2 separate regions of the Homo sapiens genome follow, and region 1 is linked to region 2. Evidence: fine-mapped expression QTL. Tissue or cell type: whole blood. Region 2 holds a variant in brackets; the other region holds the start of a gene. All regions are shown on one strand. Distances are between the middles of the regions. Region 1 holds the start of RAD52 (RAD52 DNA repair protein). Region 2 overlaps RAD52 (RAD52 DNA repair protein).

Region 1 (4,387 bases), 24 kb after region 2:
TAAGTTTTAAATGTCTGTGCCTCAGACTGCGAGTTCTGTGGAGGACTAGACCTAGAAAGCCTAGAAAATCACCAGTATCCATCAAAAATGGAGAAACAAAATGTGGTATATCCACACAATAAATAATTCAGTTATTTAAAAAATGAAGTTGATACATGCTACATACAACATAGATGGACTTTGAATCATGAAGTGAAATAAACCAAACACAAAAGAACAAATATTGTATAATACAGTACTGAGAATGGGTAAATTCATAGATTAGTGCTGCTGGGAGTAGGAGGAAATAATGGGTGTCTGCTAATGGTTTTAAGGTTTCTTTTAGGGATGATAAAAATGTTCTGGAATTAGATAATAGTGGTGATTGCACAACCTTGTGAATATATTAAAACCACTGAATTGCACACTTTAAAAGGGTGAATTTAGACTGGGTGTGGTGGCTCACACCTGTAATCCCTGAACTTTGGAAGGGCGAGGAGTTCGAGACCAGCCTAACCAACATGGTGAAAAATACAAAGTAGCTGGGTGTGGTGGTATGCGCCTGTAATTCCAGCTACTTGAGAGGCTGAAGCAAAGAATCGCTTGAACCCAGGAGGCGGACGTTGCAGTGAGCCGAGACGGCGCCACTGTACTCCAGCCTGGGCAACAGAGCGAGACTATGTCTCCACTTTTTTTTAAAAAAGGGAGTGAATTTAATTGTACGTGAATTATAACTTTTTTTTTTTTGGATGGATTCTCGCTCTGTCCCCCAGGCTGGAGTGCAGTGGTGCGATGTCGGCTTACCGGCACACCTGCCTACTGGGTTCAAGCGATTCTCATGCCTCCGCCTCCCGAGTAGCGGGGATTACAGGCGCCCGCCACCAGGCCTGCCTAGTTTTGTATTTTTAGTAGAGACGGGGTTTCGCTATGTTAGCCAGGCTGGCGTAGAACTCCTGGCCTCAAGCGATCCTCCCGCATCGGCCTTCCAAAGTTCTGGGATTACAGGTGTGAGACGCCGCGCCAGACCTCTATCTCAATGTTATAACAAGGCTCAATACTCAGCTAAAGTGAGCGTCAAATTTTTATTTTTATTTTTTCCCCCGTGACAGGGTCTCGCTCTGTCGCCCGGGACGGAGTGTCGTGGTACGGGTGCGATCTCGGCTCACTGCAGGCTTGACCTCCAGGGAACATGGGGGCATGCCGCCACCATGCCCGGCGTCAAATTCCTTTTAAATCAATCATTTCTTCCCAGCGTCCCCCGCTCCCTGCAACTCAACTTCGTTTAGCTATTAACACAAACTTCAGATTCCCCACGCCTGTCTGCAGGCAGCATCTCCAAGGAAGCGCCACCACGGACACCTGGCTGTCCGCACCGCGGTGGGGTCCCGGCGCGTTGGTGCCAAGTTTCCTGTACCCCGCCTTCCTACCCACCTCTCGGGAGGCCCGGATACTGAGCCCCTCACTGCACTGGTGAACTAGAACAGGCCTCTGGACTCAGCATCTCTACGCTGAGACCTCAGGATCAGGTCCACCGCAGCCCCAGGTTCTCGACCCGGAAGCTGAGCCTTCCCACGCTCCACACCCACGGCTAGAACCACCCCGGGGGAAGCCGCTCTCCTCCCCCACTTACGCGCCTCGGGCAGCGCGCGGTGCACACAGGGAGCTCGATCTAGGCTATGGACAAGGGGAAGAGATCTTAGATGGAGGCCGCGCAGAGGAGAATGGGAAGGGTGCGCGAGCGTCTCTGGGAAGAAGGTCCGAACCCACGCCCAGCGCCGGAGGGGGAAAAAAAAAAACACAGACCAGAGAAGGAACCGTAAATCAAGTCGGAGGGGAAAAGAGCCGCAAAGCCTTCTGCGGCAGCCGTAAAGCAACCTGGAGGCGCGGTGCTGGCTTTTACGTTCTGAGCCGCTCGCCCTGCCGCTTCCCTGCGCGCCCTCTGCCTCCTACTTCCCGCCAGCTTCCCTCGGTCCGCGGCCGTCGGATCTCTGCTGCCCCCTGGTGGGCCTGGCGGTTTCGTCAGGCCTTCAGCGGCTAGTTAGGCCCGGGTGGTTCACACTTCACATGCCCAGTGCCCATTAGGATGCGGGGCCCGCCCACCCATGCACAATTGGGAAAATCTGAGGATGAATGGTTGTCAGAGACCTTCCCAGATTCCGCCCGGGCCGAGGCAGCGGTGGACCTGGTGGTTCTCGCGGCCTCTCACCACCGCCGCGCACATCCAGTCGTCACCGGATGGCGCCTTCGGTTAGCGACGACCGCAGGGAAATGGAGAAGTGCGGCTTGGGGGGCGAAGTCCCCTCTAGAATGTCCCCTGGGGCCGGGCGTGGTGGCTCAGGCCTGTAATCCCACCACTTTGGGACGCCGAGGCGGGCTGATCACGAGGTCAGGAGTTCGAGACCAGCCTGGGCAACATGGCGAAACCCTGTCTCTACTAAAAATACAAAAAATTAGCCGGGCGTGGTGGCGGGCGCCTGTAGTCCCAGCTACTCGGGAGGCTGAGGTAGGAGAATGGCGTGAACCCCGGGGGACGGAGCCTGCAGTGAGCCGAGATCGCCCCACTGCACTCCAGCCTGGGCGACAGAGCGAGGCTCCGTCTCAAAAAAAAAAAAAAAAGTTTTTGTAGCGACAGGGTCTTGCTATGTTGCCCAGGCTGGTCTTGAACTCCTCGCCTCAAGTGATCCTCTTGCCTCAGCCTCCCAAAGTGCTAGGATTACAGGTATGAGCCACTGCACCTAGCCCACTTATCATTCTTTTTGTGGCGAGATATTTTCAACTTACTCTCTTAGAAATTTTGAAATATACAATAAATTATTATTAACTATAGTCACTATGCTGTGCAATAAATCTCAAAATTGTATTCCTCCTGTTTAACTGTTAACTTTGTACCCTGAGACCAACATCTTCATCTCCCCATTATCTCCCCCAGCCCCTTATTCCCCAGCCTCTGGGGAATTTTTAGTAGAGACAGGGTTTCTCCATGTTGGTCAGGCTGGTCTCGAACTCCCAACCTCAGGTGATCTGCTCACCTCAGCCTCCCAAAGTGCTGGGATTACAGGTGTGAGCCACTGTGCCCAGCCAATATTGAGCATTTTTATGAACCTGTTGATCATTTGTATGTCATCTTTTGATAAATGATTTTTTTTTTAAAGAGTCAGGGTCTCAAGCTATCAAGCTGTTGCCCAGACTGTACTGCAGTGCTGCAATCATGGCTCACTGCAACCTCTAACTCCTGGGCTCAAGTGATCCTCCCACCTCAGCTTCCCAGGTAGCTGGGACTACAAGCATATGTCACCACACCTGGCTAATCTAAAATTTTTTTGTAGAGACAAGGTCTTTCTATGTTGTCCAGGCTTTTCACAACTCCTGGCCTCAAGCAATTCTCCTGTCTCAGCCTTCCAAAGCACTGGGATTACAGGTGTAAACCAGTGCACCTGGTGCCCTTTGCCCCCTTTTTAGTCGTGTGATCTGATTTTGCTATGAGTTGTTTGCTTTCTTCACATATTTAGAATAGGATAGTAACCCCTTATTGGATATATGGTTTGCAAATATTTTCTCTCACTCTGTTGTTTTCTTTGTTGTGTCCTTTCATTTCTGATTTTGGTAATTTGTGTCCTCTCCTTTTTTCACTAGTCCAGCTAGATGTTTATTAATTTTACCTGTCTTTTCAAAGAACCAGCTCATGGTTTTATTAATTACTACAATTGTTTTTCCATTTGTTTGTTTCACTGATTTTCATTGTTATCTTCATCACTTCCTTTCTTCTGCTCACTTTAGGTTTACTTTACTTTTCTTTCTTTTTGTTTCTTATGATTTTAACCTTTTTTTGTTTTAAGTAAAGGCATTTAAACTATTAAACTATAAATTTTCCTCTAAGAACTCCTTTAGCTGAATTTTATAAATTCTGAAACATAATTTTTGGGGTAAATGTATTTTAAAGTTACCTACCTGCATGTTATTGTATATATTATATTGTTTTCTTTTTTTTTATGAAAAACTTTTTTTTCTAAGAGACAGCACCTCACTCTGCTGCCCAGGCTATGGTGCAGTGGCACGGTCATAGCTCGCTATAACCTCAAATGCCTGGGCTCAAGTGATCCTCCTGCTTCAGTCTCCTAAGTAGCTAGGATTACAGAGGCTACATGCCCAGCTAAGTAAAAAAACATTTTTTTGGTGGAGGCAGGGTCTTGCTATGTTGCTCAGGCTGGTCTTGAACTCCTAGCCTCAAGCAATTCTCCCACCTTGGCCTCCCAAAGTGCTGGAACTGCAGGTGCATGACACTATGCCTGGCTAATTAAAAAAATTTTTTTTAGAGAGGGGTTCTTACTATGTTTCTCAGGCTTGTCTTAAACTCCAGGGCTCAAGCAATCCTCCTGCCTCAGCCTCCTGAGTAGCTGGGACTACAGGT
Region 2 (4,387 bases):
CTGTAATCCCAGCTACTCAGGAGGCTGAGGCAGGAGCATCGCTGGAACCCAGGAGGCAGAGGTTGCAGTGAGCCAAGATCACACCACTGCACTTCAGCCTGGGCGACAGAGCGAGACTCCGTCTCAAAAAAAAAAGTCTAACAAAATATTAGCAAACTGAATCCAATAATGTTTAAAAATGATTTTTTTAAAGGAGTTTTTACAGATGCCCAGTGACACACACCTTGTGGGGCTCCATGAGGACAAGAATCCCTCAGGCACAGGATGGGAATGCTGCCCTGGGGAGCGACATGGCAGGGACCTCGGAGAGCAGATGAGGCAGGAGGAACACTCCAGAAGCCACTCATGGCAAGGCAGTGTGACTCCAGGGCTGCCCCACCACAGACCCCATTCTCCAAAGGCAAAGGCTCAGATCACGTTATAGGTATTGACAGAAATAATGGACATGTAAATGACATTGTAATGACATCAGACATGTAATGACACCAGAACTAAGGAAAAGAAAGAAGGCTCAACAGCGAGGCTGGGAGTGTCTGGGAAGGACAGTGGTGCTGCAGAGGGCTGTGTGCTTGCTTTGAGGCTTCACAGACTACCCCCAACCACAGTTCACTACCTACACGTACACAAATTCTCTAGACCTCACATTCTTGTCAAATGGTGTGATTTTTTTTTTTTTTTTTTTTGGAGACGGAGTCTGGCTCTGTCGCCCAGGTTGGAGTGCAGTGGTGCCATCTCGGCTCACTGCAAGCTCTGCCTCCCGGGTTCACGCCATTCTCCTGCCTCAGCCTCCCGAGTAGCTGGGACTACAGGCGCCCACCACCTCGCCCGGCTAATTTTTTGTATTTTTAGTAGAGACAGGGTTTCACCGTGTTAGCCAGGATGGTCTCGATCTCCTGACCTTGTGATCCACCTGCCTCCACCTCCCAAAGTGCTGGGATTCCAGGCGTGAGCCACGGTCCCCGGCCCACATGATGTACTTTAGAAAAAAGGAAAATGTTGGGATTAGTTCCTGCTGTCTCTAACATTCGAAATCTGAAATCAACATTCCCGACCCTCTAAAGAGCTGAGTCCTCACTTTTTCTCCTTGCATCCTCCAAATACTCAACCCATGACACACAAGAGTTTGCCGCATTATCTTCACTCCACTCATCCATGTCTGATATACCTGGCGTGGAAGCTTATTTAGTGATCTCAGGTAGTCTTTGTCCAGAATACAGTTTCCAAGTGCATTCCCAAAACTCCTAAGGGCAAGAGAAAAAAAGGTGAAACAGGGTTAAGAATTGTTACACATGAATATCAGAGAATAGAATTACAACTTTTGTACAGGTTGCTTCTCAGGAGCAGCAGAGGAAGTGGACCCTAACATGCATTCCCCATTGATGTCTGGTAAGCATCTAGCATGTTCCTGCACTGTGTTAGTTTCTGAGAATACTGCAGTGAGGACAAGACACAAGTCCCTGCCCTCACAGAGAAGATGAGTATGAAAAGATTACGGCGCCATTCACAAAACCCACCAGCCACCTCCTGACATGGAGAACAAACTGCAGAGAGTTTTTCTTTTTTTTCCCCCCAAAGGCTGCTCCAATTTCCCAGCAGGAGTAGGCAACACACACTTGGGGACCGGGGGCTCAAGGGCACAACCTCCCATGACCAGAGTTCTTAACTTGGGATCTACGGACTCCCCCACAGAACTCATAGGTTTTTCTGGTTCAATTCACTTCAATTCTCAAAGACACGGATATGGTTTGGATGTTTATCCCCTCCAAATTTCATGTTGAAACGTGACCTCCAATGCCGGGGGGTGCGGCCTGGTGGGAGGTACTGGATCCTGGGGCTGGATTCCTCATAAACAGCTTAGTGCCATCCCCTTGGTGTTGAGTGAGTTCTCACTCAGCTCATGAGAGATCTGGTGGTTTTGAGTGTGGGGGCTGGGCATGATGGCTCATGCCTGTGATCCCGGCACTTTGGGAGGCACAAGGCAGGAGGATGACTTGAGCCCAGGAGTTTGAGACCAGCCTAGGCAACAAAGGGAGACCCTGTCTCTCCAAAAAAAAAAAAATTTTTTTTTAATTAACTGGGGGTGGTGTTATGTGCCTGTGATCCCAGCTACTCGGGAGGCTGAGGCGGGAAGATCACTTCAGCCCAGGAGTTCAAGGCTGCACTGAGCGATGACGGCACCACTGCACCCCAGCCTGTGCAACAGAGCAAGACCCTGTCTCAAAAAATGAAAAACAACAATAAAATAAATAAATAAGCCTGGGACTCCTTCCTTCTCTCTCTTGCTCCCTCTCTCTCCACGTTCCCTCTTCACCTTCTGCCATGATTAGAAGCTTCCTGAGGCCTCAGCAGAAGTGGATGCTGGCACCAGGCTTCCAGTACAGTCCACAGAATCATAAGCCAATCAAACCTCCTTTATTTATAAATTACCCAGCCTCTGGTATTCCTGTATAGCAACATAAATGGACTAACACGGACATCTGCGTGACTGTGTAACTACGTTAACTATGCTACCTGTGCGTAGCGGAGGACTGCTGAGGAGCACGGAGAGGAGGGTGCTGTCTGTGCACTCGCAGTAGGAGTGGGAAGGCCTC[C/T]GGCACACATGACTGAGTGCACGGAGAAGAGAGAGTACAGGATTCTACCACTTACTCCCAGCAAGGGAAGCCTGAAACAGAAACATTGAAAAAATACTAACGAAAGTGGGAAAACGGCAGACAGGAACCAGGGCAGGGGTGAGAATTACCTTCCACGCTGCTTGGATTTTTGAACCATGTGGATGTGTTACCTCTTCCAAAAAAAATCGAAATCTGCTCTGAAGCAAGAGCTGAAATGACGCAGGTTAGACTCCCAGCCCCGCGCTCACCTGAGGGCTCGCTTCAGCCCGTCTGTCACCGCCTCCTTCCTTGCCTTCTCCAAAGATAAAGCCTTGGACTTGAGGCCCTCACTAACACCATAACCAACATCTTCATGATATGAACCATCCTGGGGGCAGAAAAGGAGTTTGAACTCAAACACGAGAGCGGCAGGCGTGCCACAACTCCCCTGTTCCTCAAGCAGCAGGGTTCAAAGCCGGACTCTCCCACCTGGCGGCCTTGCTACAGGGGCACGGGCAGAAGGCTGGGTGAGAATCCATCGCGAGTGCTGCTTCCTAGACCTGGGCTGCCTGGACATGTGCCTGCGGTCAAGGTGTCAAGACGATCCTCCCTTCCCAACTTCCCAACACACAAAGGGCACATTAGAAACTCACCCCAAATCCTATCAGTGTGCATCACCCTAAGGTAAAAAAAACCTCTGGGATGGCCGGGCCGGGCGTGGTGGCTCACGCTGTAATCCCAGCCCTTTGGGAGGTCAAGGGAGGTGGATCACTTGAGGTCAGGAGTTCAAGACCAGCCTGGTCAACATGGTGAAACCCTATCTCTACTAAAAATACAAAAATTAGCCGGGTGTGGTGGTGGGCACCTGTAATCCCAGCTACTCAGGAGACTGAGGCAGGAGAATCACTTGAACCTGGGAGGCAGAGGTTGCAGTGAGCCGAGATTGCACCACTGCACTCCAGCCTGGGTGATAGAGTGAGACTACGTCTTGGAAAAAAAAAAACCTCTGGGATATGAAACAAAGGGATGATTTGAACACTGGATCTAATGGTCTGTAAGGACGGGAGAGCAAACCCTTTGTAAATCAGGTGGCGTCCAGCTCCTGCCTCTCACCAAAAGAGAAGGTGGACCTGAGCACATCATTCGCTGATTGAGAATTAAATACAATGTTTGATGACAGCGCTCTGTGATTTTTAAAAAATAACTCAGAAAGCACTCAAATAAATGAGTGACACTATAACACAATTCTTTCCATTCTCAGCTACTCACTCATAGATACAAGATTTTTTAGTACTATTTAGAAAAATAAGTCAGAATAGAATTAATGCTGAATTGTTCATTCAAGAAATAAGTAGGCCGGGTGCGGTGGCTCACGCCTGTAATCCCAGCACTTTTGGAGGCCAAGGCGGGTGGATCACCTGAGGTTGTGAGTTCCAGACCAGCCTGACCAACATGGAGAAACCGCGTCTCTACTGAAAACACACACAAAAAATTAGGCGGGCGGGGTGGCGCATGCCTGTAATCCCAGCTACTTGGGAGGCTGAGGCAGGAGAATCGCTTGAACCCAGGAGGTGGAGGTTGCGGTGAGCTGAGATTGAACCATTGCCCTCCAGCCTGGGCAACAAGAGCAAAACTCCATCTCAAAAAAAAAAAAGAAGTAAGTAATATTCAGTTATGGATATATGGATATATAAACTAACTGAAAAGAAAAAACAGCACCATCCATCTCATTAAGATATACATTTTCCATAAATTTTATATTTTAAATTTTTTATTTTTGTGGCAAGATTTCATAT

What was found.
Region 1: it holds the start of RAD52, and the variant in region 2 is fine-mapped to the expression of RAD52 in whole blood (INTERVAL, PIP above 0.99).

What each region holds. Positions count from the first base shown.
Region 1 is chr12:947,993-952,379 of GRCh38, forward strand. RAD52 (RAD52 DNA repair protein) reads right to left here and starts at 1,702. Exons shown (of 12, transcript NM_134424.4): 1 at 1,610-1,702. RefSeq lists enhancers at 874-1,532, 1,025-1,104, 1,533-2,191, 1,655-1,924.
Region 2 is chr12:924,285-928,671 of GRCh38, forward strand. RAD52 (RAD52 DNA repair protein) reads right to left here. Exons shown (of 12, transcript NM_134424.4): 6 at 2,861-2,979; 7 at 1,166-1,241. Among named protein-coding and RNA genes, the nearest start is that of RAD52, 23 kb to the right of the region's middle. The variant C/T (reference allele first, on the strand shown) is at 2,592.